Linked DNA regions of Homo sapiens: regions 2 and 3 are each linked to region 1. The links come from fine-mapping of genetic effects on gene expression. A gene starts in region 1. Each other region holds a variant in brackets. All regions are shown on one strand. Distances are between the middles of the regions.

Region 1 (7,523 bases):
TGGGAAATCAAGGCATGAGTGACCTGAAGCTTCACCCATTCAACCAACCGTCCTTCACCATCCACCCCTGTGACCGCTCACCCATTTACAGGTGCCATCCACGCACCAACACATCCTTCTGTCTCTGTGTCCCTCACCCGCTGATGGGCACTCATCTGTTCACTGGTCCTCTCACTCCCGTCTCCATCTGTCCGCCTGCCCATCCCTCCATGTCTGTCCATTCCTCTGTTACTTGTGTCTCGTATCCATGCATCCATTGCTTTGTATCCATTTGTGCACTGAGCTGCCTTCTCAGGCCTCTATCCACACATCCGTCAATATACACTCATCACCTATCCATGCACTCACTCTTCCAGTGTCCATTCATTCCTCTGTCCATCATTCATGGACATGTATTCAAGTATTCATCCACCCATCCCAACATCCAGGCACTACCTGTATCCATTTATGTATCCATTCCTTCATCCATCCATCCAAAGATCCTTCCATCCATTCATCTACCAATCTTGCCTTGTGTATCAGAAGTCTCCCTCCCTCCACCCATGTATCATCCATTGATATTTTGTTCTATCAATCCAGTCCTGTATCCATATCAACTTTTCCATCTGTCCACCCACCCATCCCTATCTTGCTACTTACATCCATCAACCTCTCCTCCCGTCCATCTATCCCTCTTTCTCTCTTTCTTTCTTTCTTTTCTTTTTTTCTTTCTTTCTCTCTCTCTCTTTCGTTTTTCTTCCTTTTTTTTTTTTTTTTTGATGGAGTCTCACTCTGTTGCCCAGGGGCTGGAGTGTAGTGGCACGATCTCGGCTCACTGCAACCTCACCTCTGCCTCCTGGGTTCAAGCAATTCTCCTGTCTCAGCCTCCCAAATGGCTGGAACTACAGGTGCACACCACCACACCCACCTAATTTTTTTTGTATTTTTATAGAGACGGGGTTTCACCATATTGGTCAGGCTGGTCTTGAACTCCTGACCTCAGGTGGTCCACTCACCTTGGCCTCCCAAAGTGCTGGGATTACAGGCGTGAGCCGCTGCGCCCAGCCTATCCCTCTAGGTTTCTACCCATCCATCCGCTGCTCTATCCTGCTAGTGCTTCCCTTCCATACAGTATCATCCACCCATGCATCCCCTTCAGCATGCCTGCGTTGCTTCTCCACCTCATGCACCTCTTAATCCCAGCATGCACCCACTGTGGGATGACCAGGCTTCCATGTCTGGCTTCCCCAGGCAAAGCCCAGGCCTGACCCATCTCCATCCCTGACTTGGGCTCAGGGCTTGCTGATTGAACCAATGACTGCAATTCCCCTGCTTGGCTCAGAGCTGGGCCCTGGCTGATCCCCACCCCAGGCAGACCACAGAGGCTGCTGTACTGTCCTCCAGACTCAAGGCCTGCTGAGGCAAGGGCCACTTTTGAGTTCCCTTCCTGGCTAGAGGGGAGAGAAGAGCCCCAGCAGCTCCTGACTCCTGCCGTACTGGCCAAGGTCCATGTCTCCCAGCAAACTGTGGACTCGTGGAGGGCAAGGTCTGTGTCAGACTCACCTAAGTGACCCCAATGAGCAGTGCAGAGTGGGTGCTTAGGTACAGCATGTTAGGTGAGTGTAGAATTCACACACTTAGTCATTCATCATTCATTCATTCATTCATTCCTATAATGATTAAAGCAATAGAGACACCTCTGGCCAGCTTCTCCCACCACAGGCTACAATCTGATGCCTGCTCTCAGGCCACAGAAGTCACTCCCCTGACTGTAATGGGTGTTAAGCTTCTGATACGGAGCCCTAGAGAGGAGACAGTGAGTCAGCGGCAGAGGAGGAACCAGAACCCAGGGCTGCAGACCTCCGTCCAGGCCTCTCCACTAAGGCTAGCGACCAGCTCTGCGGCAGGAAGGGGAGTCAGAAGAGAACCATGCGGGGTGATTCTAGACCAACACGGCGAGTCCTAGGGTCACCCACCCATCTGTCCCAGGGATCCTTACCTCCCTTAGGGGGAGGAGCCACACCTCCCCACCGCCATGGCTTCCACACTCCAGCAGGACACAGCCTCTCTAAGTCTTGAGACTTGAACACTCTACACTCTCCCCATCACCTTCAGGCCTTGGGCCAGGCTCCTGTAACACACCTTGACCCCTTCATCTGTTCAGCAACTACTCAGCCCTTGGACCCCACCTCCTGGGACCCTGGGTAATGATTTGTGGACTGTGTCCAATAGCCATGGACTCATGGGCTTCAGTCAATCCCTCCCATCCATCCATCCATCCATCCATCCATCCATCCATCCCTCCCTCCCTCCCTCCCTCCCATCCATCCATCCATCCATCCCATCCATCCATCCCTCCCATCCCTCCCATCCATCCCTCCTTCCCTCCCTCCCATCCATCCCTCCCTCCCTCCCTCCCATCCATCCATCCCTCCCTCCCTCCCTCCCATCCATCCATCCCTCCCATCCATCCCTCCCTCCCTCCCATCCATCCATCCATCCATCCATCCATCCATCCATCCATCCATTCATCCATCCATCCACTCTTCAGCATCAGGAGTGCCTGCAGGAGTAGGGAAGCTCCTTCAAAGTGTTGCCGTGGAGATGATGCGTGGAAATGCTGATCCAGGGCCCAGTACATAGCAGGCGTTCCATAAATGGCAGCTATGTGGGCCAGACCCTGCGCCCAAGTCTTGGGAGAGTGGATGGAAGATCTTCCAGATTGCTTAGGGCTCATTTCCTCTCTCCAGGCCTGGGCTCTGACAGGTGTCCCCCTACTCCACCCCAGCGCATGGAAAACTCATCCTCCAGGCTGAGGTTCTAGGCAGCCCTCCCCTCCCCACTCAGCTCCCAGGTGCGAACAGCTCCAGGTTTTGACGACAAACGGAACGCGGAGCCTTGGAATCTATAAATATGAGACAAAAGCTGGGGAGGGCCCTTGGCGGCAGCGCAGCCGCCCATCGCCCAGAGCCCGTGTGCTGAGCCCGGGCAGAGCCGCATCTGCCACAGTGCTTGCTTTTCCAAGCTGCCCTGATTATAGTGAGAGTCGGGAAAATTAAGGGTTTGCAGGATGCTGCTGGGGCCCTCTCTGCCGTCTCCCCGCCCTGCGTGTCACAGATGCCAGGCAGAGCCACCCCCAACGGCCAGTTGCCCCTGCTGGCAAGACCAAGGCCAGCCTGGCAGGGCTGCACACCGCAGTTTGTTAGGGGCTTCTGCCCACAGTCCTCGTGGGAGCCTGGCCCTGGGAGTAGTGGGGGTCTCTGCTGCTCTTGGCAGGCAGAGGAACTAGGGTCCAGAGAAGGAAAAGAACCTGTCCATGGCCTCCAGAGAGCCAGAGCACTGGGGCCTCCGACGGAGCCTGGCTGTGGAGACCCCGCCCCACCCATACCCCCAGGGCCTGGACCCCCAGTCTGCACTGGCGGCCGACCTTGGCCATGCGGACTTTGCACGTGCAGTGCTCCCTATCCATCCGGCCCCGCTCCCGGGTGCCCACTCTGCTCCCATTCTGCCGGCTCAGGAGACTCCAGCGCGTCGCCCACGCTGTTCCTGCCCTGAGGAAACCACATTGGGGATGGGGTGGGGCACAGACGAGGAAGGAAACACCTCTAAACCAAGCAGGAAGCGGAAACGCTGGGGCAGAAATTCCCATCCAACGTGCTGGGGCTCAGGGAGGGTGAGCGCGCCGGCTGAGCCGCTCTGGGCGAGGCCCTGGCCTCCCTGAGCCTCAGTTTCCTCGCCTGTAAAGGGGCAGGAGGATAGTACCTGCCGCGAGGTACTGAATGGGATGGTGGTGTCCGAGGTTCGTGCGCGCCCACGCGCTGCAAACGCTCAATGAGGCGGCCCCGGGTCCAGCCTCCTTCCGGCTCCCGGGCCTTTCTCCGGCCTCCCAAGCAGGGGCTGGCCCTGCCCCCAGACGCAGGCGGGTCCAGGCCTGCCCGCACCCTCGCCACCCGCCCGGGACAGCGGCGGGTCCCCAGTCCTCCGGCCGCGCCCTTGGTCACCCGTCCCTCCTTTCCTTCCGCCGCAGGGGCGCGCGTGTCAGGGCGCAAGGACCCCGCGATAGGACCCGGGCGCTCCCGGCGGCGCGCGGAGGCTGGGCATCCCCGCCCCACCCGAGAGTGCCCAGTTCCCAGGAGACCCGGCCCGGCTCCTCCCGGGCCAGTGAAGCCTCCACGGCGGGGGCGCAGCGCGGAGGGGAGCGGGGCGGGGGGCCGGCCACCTCCCGCGCTGAGCAGGGACCGCCCCAGGCGTGGGTGGCGCCCGCCCCGCCTCCGCGCCCGCGCCCGCGCCCTGCCCTCCCGGCTCGCAGGTACTCACCGCCCGGCGCAGCCGGCCCGGCCGGCGACCGCCAGTCCACATGGCCCCAGGGCAGCCGCGCCGCTCACCGCCGCCGCCGCTACCGCCGCCCCCTCCCCTCCGAGGCCGAGCGCGCCGGGAGCCGGCGCGGCCGGGGCTCCCCCACCCCGCCCGGCTTCCCGCAGGGAGCGCCCGCCCCCCGCCCCCAGCCCGGCTCCCCGCCAGCCCCGGCCCCGCGCAGCCGCGGCTGAGCCCGCGCGTCCTCCCGGCAGCGCCCGGCCGGGGCGCAAGTGGTGGGCGCAGGGCCGGGCAGGGGCGCGGGGGTGCGGCGTGCGCGGGGGCCAGGCGAGGAATGGCAGAGGGGCAGGGAATGAATGAACCCGCGCCAGCTTGAATGGCTGAGCGCGTGAATGAATGAGTGCGGTAGAGCATGCGGGGCTGGGGGGGCGGGGGGAATGAATAAATGAGAGAACTAATGCACGGGCGCGAAGGTGAGTGACAGAGTGAATGGGCCCTTGAAACCCAGAGGCTGTCAGTAATGACCTGCCCAACCTTTTCATCGGTCCATCCATTCAATCCCTCAACATTTATTAGACACCTAGTGTGTACCAACCAGCCCTGCTGTAGGCCCCAGGGGGTACAGTAGCGAGTGAAACCAAGCTCCTGCCCTCGCAGAGTCACATTTTACAGATGAGGAAACCCTGGCTCCCAAGGGTGCCTCCTGGCCAAGCTGCCCCTTACCCTGCCCTTGCTCTGCCCGAGCCCCCAGTCGGTGGCTTCCAGGGCTTGCCTTCTCCCCAAGGAGCTCTCAGGAAGGGAAGGTGGCTTCAGGAGGACCAGTGTTGCCCCCTGCCTATCCCTCCAGTCTGAAGCATCCCACCGACCTGCCCGGTAGAGCCCAGGCTGGCCAGTCCTACCCTGGTAAAGGTGCAGCGTGAACCCTCCTCTCTCCTCCCAGAGCGGGCAAGGGGCAGCCCTGAGGGTGCCAGCTACATGAGGGTCTTCCATCCCAGCCAGCCCAGCAGCAGCCAGCGTGGGAACCCGGGGAGGAGCACTGGCAGCCAGGGAGGGTCCTGCGTGGTGGAAACAGAGCTGGCAAAGCCCGTGTGCTTCGCTCATATCCTCCCTCGGGACCTATGGGCTCATGGTTCACACATGCTTATATCATTTCCAAGTACATGGCAGATTAGAAGATGCTGCGAATGAGTACCTTGTATATTTTTGTTTTTTAATTGTGGAAAACATGGAAAACATAAAATTTACCATTTTAACCACTTTTAAAGTGTACAGTTTGGGGACACTGAGTTCCCACTGTTGAGCTGCCATCACCACCATCCTTATATGCTGTATGTTGTATGCTTTGCAGTTTCTACGCTCTCTCATTTAATCTGGGGAGTAGGTTGCTACATTCAGGCAGTGTCAGTGCTGAGAAAAGGCACTGATAGCAAGGCAAGAGGGGAAACCCAGAAAAAAAGGAGACAAGCAAAAGAACCAGCAGCTGACTGGAGCCACTTCGTGTCAAGCAAAGTCCTGTCTCTGCTCCCTCTCAGGTCCCAGGGACATGATTGGGTAACCAATGGACAGAGGGAGGCGCCTCCAAGTGCACCCCACCACAGTCAAGACAAAATGAGAGGCGGCAGCTCAGGGCGGGGCTCTCCCAGTTTGGGCGAAGCGTGGACAGACTTCGCCCAAACCGTCGCTGGTGTGCACCACGGGACCAGCCTCTTTGCTCAAGGGGGCCTTAGTCTCCCCAGCAGGAGTAGGGACAGGCTCCCTGACCTCCACTCTGGCCTCTCAGGTTCAGACACCATTCAGGCAGCACACAGCAGTGGAGGCATCCTGTGAGAGGTAGTGAGGCCCAGCCTGCCAGCTCCAGTGTCCCTTCCCTCCCCAGTCCCTAAGGGGACAAACACCAATGGGGGATGTGGAACCTGGGGTACAGGCAGGGCTCTGCCCACATTGCCTCCTCCTGGGCTGCGGCCCTTCCCCAGAGGCTGGTCCTGCTCAGATGGTGCCAGAATGTTCACCGCCCGCCCTGGCACTGCTGCTGCCAACGCCACAGATGGCTGGGGAGGCGGGGGAGGGGCGGGTGGGGTGGGGGCGGCTCCTGCTTCAGCTCCAGCAGCTTGCAGGCTTCAGCTCAGGCCTGCCTGGGAAGGCCCCAGGAGAGCCCCTCCCCCATGCTGCACGCACCTCCCGTCCCCACCCTCCCTGCCCTCTCTTCTATCCTTCCCACTCCAGCCCCCTTAAGCTAGGAAGGCGGAGAGAAAGCAGGCATTGGTTGTGGGTCTGGGAGCATCCCTGCAATGCCCCTGTAGGGGAAGTGGTACTAGCCCCTTTTTGCAGATGGGGAAACTACAGTCAGTGCAGCAGAGCCTGGGGCATCAGGCAGGCTTCCTGGAGGAGGCAAGGTTTCAGCCGGGTTGGGAAGAAGGGATGAAAGTGGCAGGACTTCGAGGTGATGCCCTGGGGCCATGGAGGACCCTCTCCTCAGGCCCCTGCCCTCATTCAGACCTCTACGGACCACTCTGTTTGACATCACCATCCCCATGGCTCAATCTCGTTGCCCTATTTTGTTTTTTGCGTGTCTCTTACTGCGTTCCAGAGCTATCTGATCTGTCTGTTGATGTGGACATCAATCTCCCCGCTGGGATGCGTGGTCCTCTACTGTGGTCAGGGAGCAGGGCAGGAAGTGGCACCACACTGGGGCTCATGGTTAAATGTGCCAAAGAATGCATGGATGGATGGAGGTGGGGGAGATAGGAATAGCCTGGTGTGATGCCAGGCTTCTGGCCCTGGTGGCTGAGTATAAAAGAAAGGACAGCACGTCAGGGAAGTCATTGACAGTGAGGCACCCGCAGACAGCCACATACAGGGGCTCCAGCATCAGCTAGCCATGCTGACCAGTTCCCTGCCTCATCTTCCAATCCCCACCCACAAGAACAGATTGAGCAAGGGTTCTGACTATGAGCCCTAGAGAATGGGAAGGTGAGAGGTATCTTCCCACTCTCCCACAAACAACAGGTGCTCCAACTGAAACTCTGGAGTCCCCTGCAGAATCGGGCTACAGCTGCCCTCCACAGGTGGTGAGAAGGCCCTGAATTGGCCCAAGTGTGTATCTAACAATGACCCCAACTGCAATATTAACCCAAATTCCAACCTATATCAAATGCTAAACCTAACTCTAATGGGACCCAAAACCAAAGCAAACTTTAACCCTACCCCAATGCTAGCCTGAACAGTAACAT
Region 2 (7,523 bases), 73 kb before region 1:
TACTTTTATGGAAATATAACTGACATACAATAAGCTGCACATATTCAAAATGTACAGTTTAAGTTTTCATATATGTATACATCCATGAAATAGTTACCACAATCAAGATAAATAATGCATCCATTACCTTCAAAAGTTTTTGTGCCCCTGTGTTTACTTCTAGAAGTTGTATAGTTTTGGGCTTCATATTAAAGTCTGTGATCTATTTAGTATTAATTTTTTGTGTATGGTACAGGTATGGATGTAGTTTCATGTTTTTGCCTGTGGATAATCAAATTTCTGCAGCATTTGTTGAAAACAATATCTGTGCCTTTACCTCTCTGTGGAAATCAATTGGCTAAATAGATTTAGGTCTATTGTTGTACTCTCTCTTCTGTTCCATTGATTTCTTTTTTTTTTTAATTAAAAAAATTTTTTGTAGGCTGGTTATGGTGGCTCACACCTGTAACCCCAGCACTTTGGGAGGCTGAGGTGGGTGGATCACTTGAGGTCAGGAGGTCGAGACCAGCCTGGCCAACATGGCAAAACCTGTCTCTACTAGAAGTACACAAAATAGCTGGGCGTGGTGGCGTGTGTCTGTAGTCCTAGCTACTCAGGAGGCTGAGGCAAGAGAATTGCTTGAACCCGGGAGGCGGAGGTTGCAGTGAGCTGAGATTGCACCACTGCACTCCAGCCTGGGTGACAGAACGAGACTCCATGTCAAAAAAAAAAAAAATTAATTTTTAGAGACAAGGGTTTCACTGTGTCATCCAGGCAGTGGCACGATCATGGCTCCTGCAGCCTGGAACTTCTGGGCTCAAGCGATCCTTCTGCCTCAATCTCCTGAGTAGCTGGCACTATAGATGTGCACCACCACACTCGGCTAATTTAAAAAAAATTTCTTTTGGCCGGGCACAGTGGTTCACGCCTGTAATCCCAGCACTTTGGGAGGTCAAGGTGGGCGGATCACCTGAGGTCAGGAGTTCAAGACCAGCCTGGCCAACATGGTGAAACCCCGTCTCTACTAAAAATACAAAAATTAGCTGGGCATGATGGTGGGTGCCTGTAATCCCAGCTACTCGGGAGGCTGAGGCAGGAGAATCACTTGAACCCGGGAGCCGGAGGTTGCAGTGAGCCGAGATCGCGTCATTGCACTCCAGCCTGGGTGACAGAGCGAGACACCATCTCAAAATAATAATAATAATAATAATAATAATGTAAATTTTTTTTTTTTTTGTAGAGACAGGGTCTCGCCATGTTGCCCAGGCTGATCTCAAACTCCTGGCTTCAAGTGATCCTCTTTCTTTGGCCTCCCAAAGAGTTGGGATTACTGGTGTGAGCCACTGCACTGGCCCCATTGATTTATTTGTCTATCTTTATACCATTGTTTTCATCATTGTAATATTATAATGAATCTTGAAATCAGCTCGTATAAGTCTTCCACCTTTGTTCTGACTACTGTAGGTTCTTTGCATTTACATTTCAGTTTTACAATTGCTTTGCCAATTTATGCAAAAAAAAACTGGCTTGAACTTTAAATGGTATTGCATCTCATCTGTAGAGCAATTTGGGAAAGAATTGTACTGCCAACAATTTTGTTTCTTTCAACCCATAAGCATAGTATACTTCTCTATTTACTGAAGTCTTTAATTTTTCTCACCAATGTTTTGTAGTTTTCATAGTGTAGGTCTTTCACATTTTTTTGTCAGAATTTATCCCCAAGTATTTATATTTTGATGCTATTGTAAGTGATATTTTAAAATTTCAGCTTCTGGTTGCTCATGGTTAGTATATAGAAAAATTGTGGCTATGTGAATTTTCACCTTGAATTCTGTAACTCTTCTAAACTCATTTATTAGTTCTGGTTGTTTCTTTGTAGATTCTATTGGATTTTCTATATAGATAATCATGTTGTCTGTTAATAAAGTCAGGTTTAGTTATTCTTTTCCAATCTGGACACTATCTGTCTATCTCTATCCTCTCTCTCTCTCATCTATTTTCTCTCTTCCTCCCTCCCTCCCTTCCTCCTTTTCTCCTTCCCTTCCTTCCTTCCTTTCTTGTTTCCTTATTGCACTGGCTCAAACCTCTAGAACAGTGTTGTCTAGAAGTGGTGAGAGTGTGCATCCTTGCCTTATTTCTGATCATAGAGGGAAAGTATTCTCTTTCAGTTACATATGATGTCAACTAGTTGTTTTGTACATGTCCCTATCAGTTTGAATGTACTCCCTTTTATTCATAGTTTGCTGAGAGTTTTTTAAAAATCATGAATGAATGTTAGATTTTGTTAAATGCCTTTTCCCATTTATTGAAATGATCATGTGTGGTTTTTTTATTCTGTTAATATGGTGGATTTTGTCAGTTGATTTTCAAATATTAGAACAGCCTTGCATTCCTGGGATAAACTTCACTTGATCATAATATATTATTCCCTTTGTATAATTTGGAATTATATCAGCTAAAGTTGTGTTAGGAATTTTTGCATCTATGTTTATGAGGGTTATTGATCTGAACTTTTTTTATTATAATATCTTTGTATGGGTTTGGTATCAGGGTAATTCTGGCTTCATAGAACAAATTGGGAAATGTTCATTTCTCATCAATTTTCTGGAAGACTTCGTGTAAAAATTGACATTATTCCTTAAATGTTTGCTAGAATTGACTAGTGAAGCTGTCTTGGCCTGAAATTTTCTTTGTGGGAAGATTTGAAATTTTAAATAAAATCTACTTAGTAAATATAGGGCTATTCTGATTTTCTATTAATCTTTGAGTGACTTTTGATAGCTTGTGCCTTTCAAGAAATTTGTCCATTTCATCAAAGTTGTCCAATTTTTTGGCATAAAGTTTTTTGTAATGTTATTTTTAAAAATCTGTATAATCTGTGGTGATACCACCTCATTTCTCTCAGTGCTGATATTGGTGATTTTTGTCTTCTCTGTTTTTTACTCTGATCAGTCTAGCTAGAGGCTTATAAA[T/C]TTTATTGATCAAGTATCAGATTTTCATTTTATTGTCTTTTACTCTTTCTTTTCTTTTTACAGAACTCATTGATTTCTTTTCCTATCTTATTTCCTTTCTTTCACAAAAACCTTGAATTTAATTTTCTTTTTCTAGTTTCTTAAAGTGTAAGCTGAGGTCATAGTTTTGAGACTTTTATTCTTTTCCGATTATAGATGTTCAATACTATTGATTTTTCTCTAGGTATTTCAGCTGCACTACCCAAGCTGTTGATATATTGCATTTTCATTTTCATTCAGTTCAAAATACTTTCTGATTTCCTTTTGGTTTCTTCCTGATCCATGATTTATTTAGAAGTGTGCTCGTTAGGTTCCAAACACTTGGGAACTTTTCAGATGCCTCTTTGTTATTTTTTCTAATTCAATTCCATTGTGGTCACAGTACATACATTGTATATTTGAATTCTTTTAAATTTATTTAGATTTTTTTGATGTTTTAAAATATGGTCTATCTTGGTAAATGTTCTGTGTGCACTGAAAAGAACGTGTGTTCTGTGGTTGTTGGGTGCAGTGTTCTATAAATGTCAATTACGTCAAGTTGGTTGATAGTGTTATTTAAATTTTCTATATCCTTTCTGTTTTTTCTGTCTATTCTATAAGAGCTGTGCTATACTTTGAACGTATGTATCCCTCCAAAATTTATATGTTGGAACTTAAACCCCAAAGGGATGGTATTAGGGGGTGGGGGCACATAAGGGGTAGATTACGTCATGAGGGCTCCACCTTTGTTAGTGTAGTTAATGCCTTTATAAAAGGGCTGGAGGGAACAAGGTGGGCCCTTTTTTACTCTTCCATCTCTTCTGCCATGTGAGGACAAGCAAGAAGGTGCAAGCCCTCACCAGACACTGAATCTGCTGGCACCTCAATCTTGGACTTCCCACCATCCAGAAATGGGAGAAGTAAATATCTATTATTTATAAATTGCCCAGTCTAAGGTATTTTGTCCTAGCAGCAGGAATGCACTAAGACAAGGCTTGCAATTTGTGTCTCTAAGAGTGGATTTGTCTACTTCCTTTTTCAGTTCTGTTAGTTTTCCTGCATTTATTTTGAAGTTGTTACCAGGTGCATACACAGTTAGGATTATCATGTTCTCCTAATGAATTGATTCTTTTATCATTGTGAAAGGACCCTCTTTTTTTTTTTTCTTTTTTTTGAAACAGAGTCTCACTGGGTTGCCCAGGCTGGTCTCAAATTCCTGAGCTCAAGTGATCCTCCTGCCTCGGCCTCCTAAAGTGCTAGGATTACAGGCATGAGCCACTGTGCCCAGCCATGAAAAGACCCTCTTTATCCCTTTATTCTTTACTCTGAAATCTACTTTGGTATTAATATAGACATTCCTGGCTTATTTTAATTATTGTTAGCATGGCATATCTTTTTTACTTTTTTTTTTTTTTTGAGACAGAGTCTCGCTCTGTGGCCCAGGCAGGAGTGCAGTGGCGCAATCTCGGCTCACTGCAAGCTCCGCCTCCCGGGTTCACGCCATTCTCCTGCCTCAGCCTCCCAAGTAGCTGGGACTACAGGCGCCCGCCACCACGCCCGGCTAATTTTTTTGTATTTTTAGTAGAGATGGGGTTTCACCGTGTTAGCCAGGATGGTCTCGATCTCCTGACCTCGTGATCCGCCCGCCTCGGCCTCCCAAAGTGCTGGGATTACAAGCGTGAGCCACCGCGCCCGGCCCTTTTTTACTTTTAACCTATTTGTATCTTTATATTTAAAGTTTGTTTATTTTAGGCAGCATATAGCTGGATCTTGCTTCTTTATTTTAAACCTGTCTAACAATCTCTTCTTTCGAACTAGGTTATTTGTCCTGTTTTAATTTATTATGATTATTGATATGGTTGGGTTTAAATCTGCTACCTTGCTATTTTTTTTTATTTGTTCCATCTCTTCTCCCCCATCCATTTTTTTCACTTGGATTAATTTAGTATTTTTATGATTTCATCTTAATCTTTTTTGTTGCTTTATCATCTGTGGCATTGTGCTGTGGGGTTTGTTTTTTTAAAATGATTGTCTGCATTTAAGTCACATTATATCTCTTTTTCTGTAAGAACCTTAGAGCAGTATTCAGATTTTCAGTTTCTCCCCTCAGGGTCTTTGTGCTATTACTGTCATACATTTTTCACTCTTACTTATGTTACAATCTCCAACATTGTTATTATTTTTGCTGGAAGTAGCCAATAATTTTAAAAATATTTTAATAATAAAAAGATATTATCTATTTTCCTACATATGTATTATTTCTATTGCTTTTCATTTTTGGGTGTAAATTTAGATCTGGTATCATTTTCTTTGTGCCTTAAGGACTTCCTTTAACATTTCCTGTATTTTTGGTCTGCTAGTGATAAATTATTTCAGCTTTTATTTGCCCAAAAAAATCTTTAGTTTGTCTTTTGTCTAAAAGATATTTATGCTAGGTAAAGAATTTGGGGTTGATGATTTTTTTCTCTTCCAGTACTTTAAACATGTCACTCAATTGTCACTAGTTTGCTCTGTTTCCAATGAGAAGTCTGCTGTATTTCTCATCTTTGCTTTTCTGTATATAATGCATCTTTTCTCTGTCTGCTTTTTAAGATTTTTCTCTTTACCATTGGCTTCAAGCAATTTAAACAATGGGCCTTGGTGTAATTTTTCTCTATGTTTCTTAGGCTTTGTTTAGTTTCTTTTATCTGTGAGTTTATAGTTTTAATCAATGTATTATAGTCTTTTATCTGTGGGTTTACAGTTTAATCAAATTTGGAAAATTTTTGCTCGTAGTTTTTTCAATTTTGTTTGTCCCCGAAACCCCACCCCTCATCTCCCTGTCTCACTTACATTCATATTCAGGGTTTTTGGATTTATTCCATAGCTCACTGATCCTCTGTTCTTCCATATCTTCAAATTTAGTAATCATATCTTATGCAATTTTTAATCTATTAATAGCGGGGCATTGTTTTATATCACTTCTACATGTTTGATTTGGGTCTTTAAAAGATATCTTTCATGTGTATTATCCTTAACATTCTCATACTGTCCGCTACCTTCTTGAGCATACAGTATATAGTCATAACTGATTTATTGTTCTTTTCTATTTATTATTAGTATTATTTTTGAGACTGAGTCTCACTCTGTCACCCAGGCTGGAGTGCAGTGGCCTAATCTTGGCTCACTGCAACCTCTGCCTCCTGGGTTCAAGCAATTTTGCCTCAGCATCCTTAGTAGCTGGAATTACAGGCGCATGCCACCACACCTTGCTTTTTTTTTTTTTTTTTTTTGTATTTTTAGTAGAAATGGGGCTTCATCATGTTTGCCAGGCTGTTCTTGAGCTTCTGACCTCAGGTGATCCACCTGCCTCAGCCTCCCAAAGTTCCGGTATTACAGATGTGAGCCACCACGCCCAACCTCTTTTCTATTTATTCTATCATTTGTGTCACTCATGGGTCTGTTTCTATTGACAGATTTTTTTTTTTTCATTATGGGAAGCATTTTCTTACCTCTTTCCAGGTCTGGTAACTTTTGATTGGATGCCAGACATTGTGAATTTTACTTTTTGGGTATTCAGTATTTTGTTGTGCTTTACATATTTTGAGAGATTTTTTGGATGCGGTTGTATTGCTTGATAACGGTTTGATTTTTCAGAGGCTTGCTGTTAGGCTTTGTTTGGTGGAACAAAAACAGCCTTTAGACTAGGGCCAATTTTGCCTCATTTCTGAGGTTATACTCTTGTGAGTACTCTATCCAATGCCATGTGTATTTCAAGGTTTTCCCCCTCTGACTGGTGGGAAAATGAATGATTCCTAGCTCTGTGTGAAACTTGGCAATTGTTTTGCTTATTCTCTTTTGGTGGTTCCTTTCCCGGTTTGTGTAGTTTCCTCACATGAATGCACTGATTAATATTTGTGTTACTTATTATAAAGAAAGGAGTGTTAATATCTCCAGGTAAAATCGTGGACTTGTATGGTTTCTCCTTTCAATTCCATCAGTTTTTGCTTCATGTATTTTGAAAGTCTGTTATTAGGTATATACATATTTAAGGTTGTTATGTCTGCTAGATGAATTGACACTTGTACGTTTTCATTGTATTCCTCTTATTCCTGGCGGTTTTCCTTGTTCTGAAGTCTACTTTGCCTGCTATTAATATGGTCACTTCAGCCCTCATTTGGTTATTTTTAATATGGTATATTTTTTTATCCTTTTACTTATAAGCTATGTATTTTATTATATTTAAGGTGGCTGTCTTGTAGACTAGATACAGTTGGATCTTTTTAAATGTTAATCTGAAAGCCAATTGGACAATCTGTCTTTTAGTTGGAGATTTTAGACAATTTATATTTAATGTAATTACTGCTATGGTTGACTTTGGCCTGTCATGTTATTATTTTATTATTTGTCTCTGTTTTTTTTTTTTTTAAAGGAGATGGGATCTCACTCTGTCACCCAGGCTGAAGTGCAGTTGTATGATCATAGATCACTGCAGCCTTGACCTTCTGGGCTCAAGCAGTCCTCCCACTTCAGCTTCCCAAGTAGCCAGGACCACAGGCATGAGCCACTGCACCT
Region 3 (7,333 bases), 49 kb before region 1:
CTTGCCCAAGGTGACACTGTCAACTGGTGGCAGAGCCCAACCCTGCGCTGCCCTGCCGAGAGCTGAGGAGAAACATACATGGATGTGTGGGCGGGTGGCGGATGTGCAGACAGGGCCTCCCTGACGGCAAGGCAGGATCTCAGTGCAGGGAGAGGGCAGGGGTGGAGCAGGGAACCCTGTGCCAAGGCCGGCTGCCTGGGTAGATGGGGACTGTCCAGGACTTCCCGTTCAGCTGTGGGGACAGTCCAAGTGCAGAAGGTCGAAGGGCAGATCCAGAGGGAAACTGCCAGCTCCAGAGCTCAGCCCCTTGGGAGCCCCACAGGAGCACTGAACAGTTTCTAGAACTCTCCAGCTGTCACAGATCTGTGCCTTTTCATGGCTGTGTTCCATTTGCCTAAAATACCTGTTGAACTCCTATTCATCCTTCAACACCCATTGTGATCCTCTCCTCTGACCCCTTTCATTCGTCCTCCTGGAGCAGTGAGGGCCCTCCCCTCTGAGAGGCCCACAGGCCCTGTGTTCTGGAAGCCCTGAGCTGAGTGTTACACTGTCTGCCTTCCTCCCCCACCTCTGAGTTCCTTGTGGGCAGGGCCAGGTCCCCGAGGCCAGCATGAGGCTGCCAGCTGACAACAGCACCAGGGAAAGGAGGGGGGCACCGAGACCCAGCCCAAGGGATCCCGCGAGAGAAGAGTCACTGGTCAGAGCCACAGGTGCTCCTAAGTCTCAGGGCCCTGCTGAGCCAGCTTTGAGCCATGAGAATTGGGGATAGTGAACCAAGGTTCCCCAGCCTCAGCACCACAAGGAGCAGTGTCCTGACTGCCGTGCACAGCAGGCAGGCCCCCACCCCGGGGGTGTCAGCCTGACCCTGCCGCTGCAAGCCATGTGGACCCTCTCCTTCCTCTTCTCTCCTGCGCCTGAAGGCTGCCTGGCTCTGCAGCCAAAGTCACCGTCCCTACCCAGTCCTAGGCAGGGACCTAATGGTCCTGGCTGCTCCGGGAACAAGACACCTTGGAGGCCCGGCTGTGGCAGGCATTGCAGCCCAGGCAGGAGAGCCCTGTGAGGTGTGGAGGCCATCTTGGGGGCCGCAGGCTCTGAGGTGGCAATTTGGGGCCAACACCCTGGGTCTGGCCCCCCCAGATCTGGGCCAAGGCTGCCGCCCAGGGCAGGTATGTCTGATTCAGTAGCCCCCAGGAGTGAGACCTGGGTGGGGCCTTTGTCACCTAGAAGTGGCAGAGCCAGGGCGCCCCTCTTTTTGGCCTCAGCTTTCCCACGTCTGGGTGACAGAAATCTCACAGTTGACACTGGGGTAGCTGAAGCTTGGGTTCCCCTCTGGGAATGCCTCTGCCCACCGGGTGCCAGTTATTTCTCTCTCCCACCCTCTTGGCTGCCCCCAGCTCAGTGAGGGCTGTAGCCCCTGTTCTGCCCACAGGCCCCAGAGAGGAGAACAGAATCCCAAACCTCTCCAAGCTTCCCCCGGCTCAGGGAGGCTGCTTCCTGGGACGGCAGCTATGGCTGGAGAAGACACAGCCTGGCTGGCTCTGGCTTCTTCTGCAGAGGAAGGGGGAGGGCAGGGATGCAGGGAGCCACGGCTGATGCCCACTCTCCTTGGAGTGGTCTGACCATAGGCAGAGCCACGCTAGAGCTACACACAAAGCCAGGCGTGCCAGGGAACCTCCAGACACGAACCTGGGTGAGGTGCTCCCCACTGGGACATGCCCCAGGCACCTACAGGGACAGCTATAAAGGCCCTCTTAGGGAGGGGCCTCCATCCTCAGCCTTGAACCCACACATGCACCTCTTCAAGGGCAGGGATGAGCATGTGTCCAAGATGAGCAGGCGTCCAGAGAAACAGGGCCGCCGGAGCGGGAACCACGAGGAGGCCTGCACAGACCACATGGTCCGGTCCCAGACCAGCTTGTGAAATGGTTGTGCCCACTGTTTTGATAGAAATAAGAGATGAGCTGGAAAATATCTCCAGGGAATGGGAAGCTAAGAAAGTGGCACTGTGGATTTGTAAAACAACCAAGTAGAACCTCCAGAAATGAAAAACATGAATAACTGAAATGAAAACCTCAGCGGCTGTGTGTGGCGGCTGAATAGACATAGGAGGGAATTAGTGAGTTGGAAGACAGATGATGTGCAGTGTAGCAGGGAGAGCGCAGCAACCACGGAGGGTGTGGGGAGGGGCGGCAGGGCCCGCTGCAGGCCTGGGATGGCACAGGGTGTGGGGAGGGGTGACAGGGACCGTTGCAGGCCTGGAGTGGCACAGGGCATGGTGGGGGGTGACAGGGCCACTGCAGGCCTGAGGTAGCACAGGTCTGGGAAACAAACCCGGAGGGAGAAAACAGAGAGAATGGGCAGAGAAATGTTTTTAAAAAAATAATAGTTGAGAATTTTTCAGAACTGATGAAGTCCACCAATCCACAGATGTGACTCCCTGAGGATCCTCAGAAGGATTCCTAAGAAGGAACTCCACACCCAGACACACCTCAGGGAAACTGCAGAAAGCCAAAGTCAAAGAGAAAATCTTAAAGAGCCGGGGAAAAGAAAGCAATTTTTTTTTTCTAACCAATGGAGCGGCTCCGGGACTGACAGCCAGTTCCCAATACCAACAGGAAGACAGAGCAGAGCGGCAGCATCCCGTGTGCCCGGGAAAAGGCCACCTGCCGACATTCCATCCGTGGCCCCAGTACATCTCAAGGAGCAGAAGCCAAGTCTGAGACACGAGGATTAGGGGCCAGGAAATCGGTGGGGCAGCGCGCAGGAGAATGGGATGAAAGAGCTGTTGTCTCCAGTGGGTTGGGAGAAGCAGGAGAATCCACACCCTAGATAGGAACTTGGATGGCGGGGTGGGGACGGGGTGTTATGGGGATGGGGTGTGAAGTGGGGTTAAGGGGCCCAACTCGGCTGCAGAGAGCAAGGCTGGGGAGGGACACCAGGGACCCCAGGTTCCCGAGACCAAAAGGCAGGAGGAGGAGAAACAGCCCAACCCAGATTCTTTCCACCGGTGTCTTTTATTAATGAATGCAAAATACAGTACTAACTGGCAGGGCATGCATCAGAGACAACAAGAATGCAAGCTACAGAAACCAGGAATGGAGGGCCTCCTCATGTCTGAGGTAGAGTAAGACGGTGTCAGGGGGCGGACCCGGGGGCGGAGATGAGCACCGGCCGCACTGGGGCATCATCCCGGCCCACCCGGGACGATGGGCCGTGGGAGGGCTCAGGGCGGTGTGGTGGCCACACTGCGAAGAATGGATTTTTAAAACACTTCATAGCCCCGAATTTGTTTCAGCTCCCTCTTCGTGGACACAACTTCAGGGCTCCCTTGTCACTGGCTTGCGGGGGTGGTCTCCCCACTTGCAGAGTCTGGTCTCCACAGGACACCGTCCTTCCCTTCCCTTCCAAGGGGCAGGCCCCACGCACCCTCGCCCAAAAAATAAAGGAGCTTTGTGTTGAAAACGCCAAGGCAGCCGTCCAGGGAGCTGGAGGCCAAGTGCGTTAAGAAAGACCCTTTTTCTCTATAAAAATAGTTTCGCTTTATAAAAGGGGGGATGCTCCTCTCACATGGGGGAAGGACGCGTGAAAAACGCTCTAAGTGGAGTTCCACGGGCCGGGGCCGGGTGGACACCGTGGTGTGGGGGACCCTCCCCTCAGGCCTACAGGGCTGGGGAGGAGAGGAGGTGCGGGGAGGAACAGACTCCTCGTTGTTGGCCGGGGCAGGGGAACAGCGGGGGCTGGGGAGAGGTGAGGCCGGCCCTTCTGGGGCACGTGGGCTGGCGGGGAGCGAACCACGGCCAGGCCTGCACGCAGGCGCTCAGTTGAGCAAGGTTCCGTAGAGCTGGGCCTTGGTGAGGCTGTCCTTGCGGCTCAGCCCCGAGCCACCAGTCCGCGGAAAGGCCTGCTGGGGGCTGAGGCGGGCGGCAGGATGCATTTCCGGGGAGGCCTCCATGGAGCTCGGCTCCAAGGAGTCCCTGGAACCCTGCTCGGGCTCAGGGCTGCTGGCGGTCCCACACAGCTGCACCCCGAGCCTGTCCCCGTCCCCCCCCTCGCTGGGTGCATAGCCGGGCAGTGGGTCAGCCGAGCGGCCGGGACTGAGGCTCAGGTCGCCGCCCGCCCGCAGGAAGCAGGGCTCTGCCAGGTGGCCCTGGGAGAGGTCGTCCCCCTCGGAGAAGCTGTCGGCCTTGTAGCTGGCGTAGAGCGGGCTGGCGCGGCCGTCGGCCTTCTTGCCCGGGCTGCCCCCGGCCCCGCCGTAGTAGCGTTCAGAGAAGCTGCAGGGTGAGGCGCGGCCGGCAGCGCTCACGGGGTAGGAGTAGGCGCCGATGTCCTCCACGCTCAGGGGACGCCACTGGCCCCTCATGTCCTCCCCGGGGAGCCGGGCGGTCCCCGGCTTGGCCCGCAGGCTCCACAGGTTTGGGGGCATCAGGGCCTGCTGGGGACCCGGAGAGGCCGGGAAGCGGAAGGTCTCGGCCGGGTACGGTGACATGGTCCGCCCGAAGCCTGGGGCCACTTCGGCCTCCAGCGGGGCCGCCACCGCGGCCGTGGCCTTGGCAAAGCGAGGGCTGCCCTCGTAGGTGGTGGCGGGTGGCTTGCGGTCGAAGAGCTCGTCGCGGCTGTTCAGGTAGATGGCCTGCTGCGACGCGGTCAGCGTGCTGGCCTGCGCGTGCTCCTTCTCCTCCGACGTGGCGCTGAAGCTGGAGTAGGAGCTGGACGTGGGCAGTGAGCC[T/C]GCGTAGCTGGGGAAGGCCTCATGCTGGAAGCCCGCCGGGAAGGCCGCCGCCTCGGCCTCCTCCTCCTCCTCGGCCGCGCTGTCAGTGGAGTTCTGGGCCCGCAGGAAGCCCACGTCGGTCACGGGCGCGTCCACGCTAGGCCGCCGGTCTCGCCGCCGCTCCTCCGGGCAGTAGAGGGCTGTGTCACTGCAGTAGATGTCTCCCTTGTAGGGGGGCCGCGGGCCTGGTTTCTCCACCCCGTCGCAGAAGGCCAGGTCGCGGGCGGAGGCATCGGACAGGCGGGAGGACAGGCTGGCGGGGTCCGGCTTCTCCAGCACCTTGGCAATGACGCAGGTGGGGACGCTGTCGGCGTAGGCCGGGTGGCAGAGCGGGGATGGCAGGCTGCAGCCGTGCTTCTCCATGTGCAGGCTCACGCGCTCCTGGAAATCCGAGGGCAGCTGGAACGGGTGCGAGGAGGGGGACGGCGGGTACAGGGTCACTGTTAGCATGGCAGCCCAGCCCTGGCCCTGAAGCTGAGGACTGATGTTAGCCATGACCGACAGGCAGACAGACGAACGGGGGCCTCCCGGCTTCTCAAATCACACCAGGGGGAGCCTGGATCCAGGACGCTGTACTGAACAAGCTCCCAGGGGTGTGGGTGCTGTGACTGCCTGGGGATCCTGGGTCACCTCTCCCCACCCCACTCTGATTGGGCCCAGGAGAGCCCAGAAGCTGCAGTCGCCTGGAGAAGCCGGAACCCAGGTCTGATTCAGGCCCCACTCAAGGCTCCACCCCCCGCCACCCCCACCCCACCCATTTTGTGCCCAGCGAGGGGTTGACTTGCTCTCCCAGGCCCGTGGGTTCTGTGGGTTCTACTGGGGGCATGACCCACTCCCCAGCCCCCCAGTCATGCTGCTGGAGCGCTCCTGAAGAAGACAGACTCAGATGCAACAAAGATTGAGGGCCAGGGCTGAGAGCGCCTGGTGCCATGTGGGGGTGTCCCGCTACTGTTTGATCTATTTTGTGAGTGTCTCAGGCATGGCCCAGGACCAGGGGAAAGGAACGCACAGGCCTGGCTGGGAGATTGCATGTGAGGGGAGGGTCGGGGGACGGGGTGCGCAGGGTGCGGCGACCATAGGCGGGCAGGGGTGGGCCTCTGGCCCATCTGCCCTTGGCATCAGACAGGCCTGGTTCTGGGTCCTGGCTCTGCTACCTGCCTGCCACGTGGCCTCAGCCACGCCCTCTTTCCTGAATGTTTTCTTTCTGAAATAGGCACTGCCGGTCATCGTGCCCAGCCACAGGCTCCTGCGAAGCTCCACAAAGGTCACTCTGCCGTGTCAGCGCTCAGTGGAAGCAAGGACCTGGAGCAGCCCCCCAAAGGAAACCGAGGGCAACCAGCAGCCGGGGTGGGCCAAAGGGACTCTGGTGAGGGCCAGGGGCTGCCCGGCTGCGTGAGGTGGGGTGCCTTTGGCGGCCCCTCCAATGTCATGACCCCACAGGAGCGAGGGGGACAGAGGAGGCTCAGGCTCAGCTGGCATCTTCCTCCTCAAAGATGGGAAATGGCTTTGGGGTAGCACTGGCACAAAAGGAGCCCGGTGGTCCCGGGGCGGGGTGGGCCTGGCTGCGGGGCCACGTTACCTCAGACACCTTGTGGACCCTGCCGTAGGTCTGGCTGCACTGCAGCAGCTGGGCCGCTAGATTGCAGTCCTTCCTATAGAGCTCCTAAAAGACAAGAGAAGGCGTTTGGCGCCATTCACCCCAGCCAAGGCCCCGCCGCCCTGACCAGCGCCAAGTGGCCAGCGGGGGCAGTGGTGTGCACAGGGCCTGCTGTGCGCTCAGCAGGACAAGGACCCACTGCTGGCTCCGGCCCTCTCTGGCCTCCACACTCTTGCCTGCAAAATGAGAGCCTCTTTCTGACCTGGGGCTGCCGGAGCATGGAGGGCCCTGCCGCTGCCCTAGCTGGTGCCCTTGAGCACTGCCAAGATGGGAACCTCCCACAAGGTGGGGGGCAGTGGTAGAAGAAGGAGCCCCAATGGCCCTGAGCTCCCCCAGGCTCGTAGAGCAGGCCTGGTCTCCCTGTCCCTGTCCCTCAGGCTCTCGGCGTCCTTCCAAAGATGACGGGGTGGGAGTGCCAGGCAGGAATGGGAGGCAGGATGAACCCCCAGCACCTTCCACCCCGCACTTCAGACTTGCTGCTCACAACCCTCTTCCCAGAGTGTGGTTTGGAAACAGTGTGGCTGCAGGGCTGGGCAGGGACTGGGCAGGTGTGTGACCTCAGGCCCAGGCGGGCGCTGGCTCAGCCTCCTGAGCTGAAAACAGATGCAAACAGTAGGACTCAAGGGGTGTGGCTTCGCCACTGAAAATCTCTGTTGCATGTGCCTGTGTTTGGGGCTTGCATTCCCGCCCCTCCGGGGTCCCCACTGCGAGGGCTCTGACAGCTAGCCCTGGGGTGGCCCGGAGGCCCAGTGACCCACCTGAGCTGCCCCATGGCTGCTCCTGGCAAGGGCTGGCCACAGTCCCAACCCAGCCAGCACCAGGCATCCTGCTGTCCAGGCAAGGCTGTCTCTGACACAGGCACCTTTCTGTCCCCCCACCACGGCCCTGGAGCCTCCCTCACTGAAGGCTGG

Which allele goes with the higher level. Positions count from the first base shown, and alleles are read on the strand shown. Sizes are in standard deviations (SD) of each study's normalised expression.
In carriers of allele T in region 2, the expression in tibial nerve of the gene that starts at base 4,465 in region 1 tends to be lower than with C alone (moderate effect, 0.48 SD a copy in GTEx).
For the expression in liver of the gene that starts at base 4,465 in region 1, allele T in region 3 goes with a higher level than allele C (moderate effect, 0.48 SD a copy in GTEx).

What was found. PIP is the estimated chance that this variant, and not a neighbour inherited with it, causes the effect. A credible set is the group of variants that fine-mapping cannot tell apart.
Region 2: its variant is the best candidate, but not a certain one, in a credible set for the expression of BEGAIN in tibial nerve (GTEx, PIP 0.59).
Region 3: its variant is the best candidate, but not a certain one, in a credible set for the expression of BEGAIN in liver (GTEx, PIP 0.84).

Annotation. Positions count from the first base shown.
Region 1 is chr14:100,582,953-100,590,475 of GRCh38, forward strand. BEGAIN (brain enriched guanylate kinase associated) reads right to left here and starts at 4,465. Exons shown (of 7, transcript NM_001385089.1): 1 at 4,297-4,465. The coding sequence starts at 4,338.
Region 2 is chr14:100,509,569-100,517,091 of GRCh38, forward strand. The region is part of intron 4 of WDR25 (WD repeat domain 25); the gene reads left to right. Among named protein-coding and RNA genes, the nearest start is that of BEGAIN, 74 kb to the right of the region's middle. The variant T/C (reference allele first, on the strand shown) is at 2,952.
Region 3 is chr14:100,534,152-100,541,484 of GRCh38, forward strand. BEGAIN (brain enriched guanylate kinase associated) reads right to left here. Exons shown (of 7, transcript NM_001385089.1): 6 at 6,345-6,428; 7 at 2,996-5,164. The coding sequence ends at 3,818. LOC124903382 (a long non-coding RNA gene) reads left to right here and starts at 3,821. Exons shown (of 2, transcript XR_007064334.1): 1 at 3,821-5,060; 2 at 5,979-7,333. The variant T/C (reference allele first, on the strand shown) is at 4,727.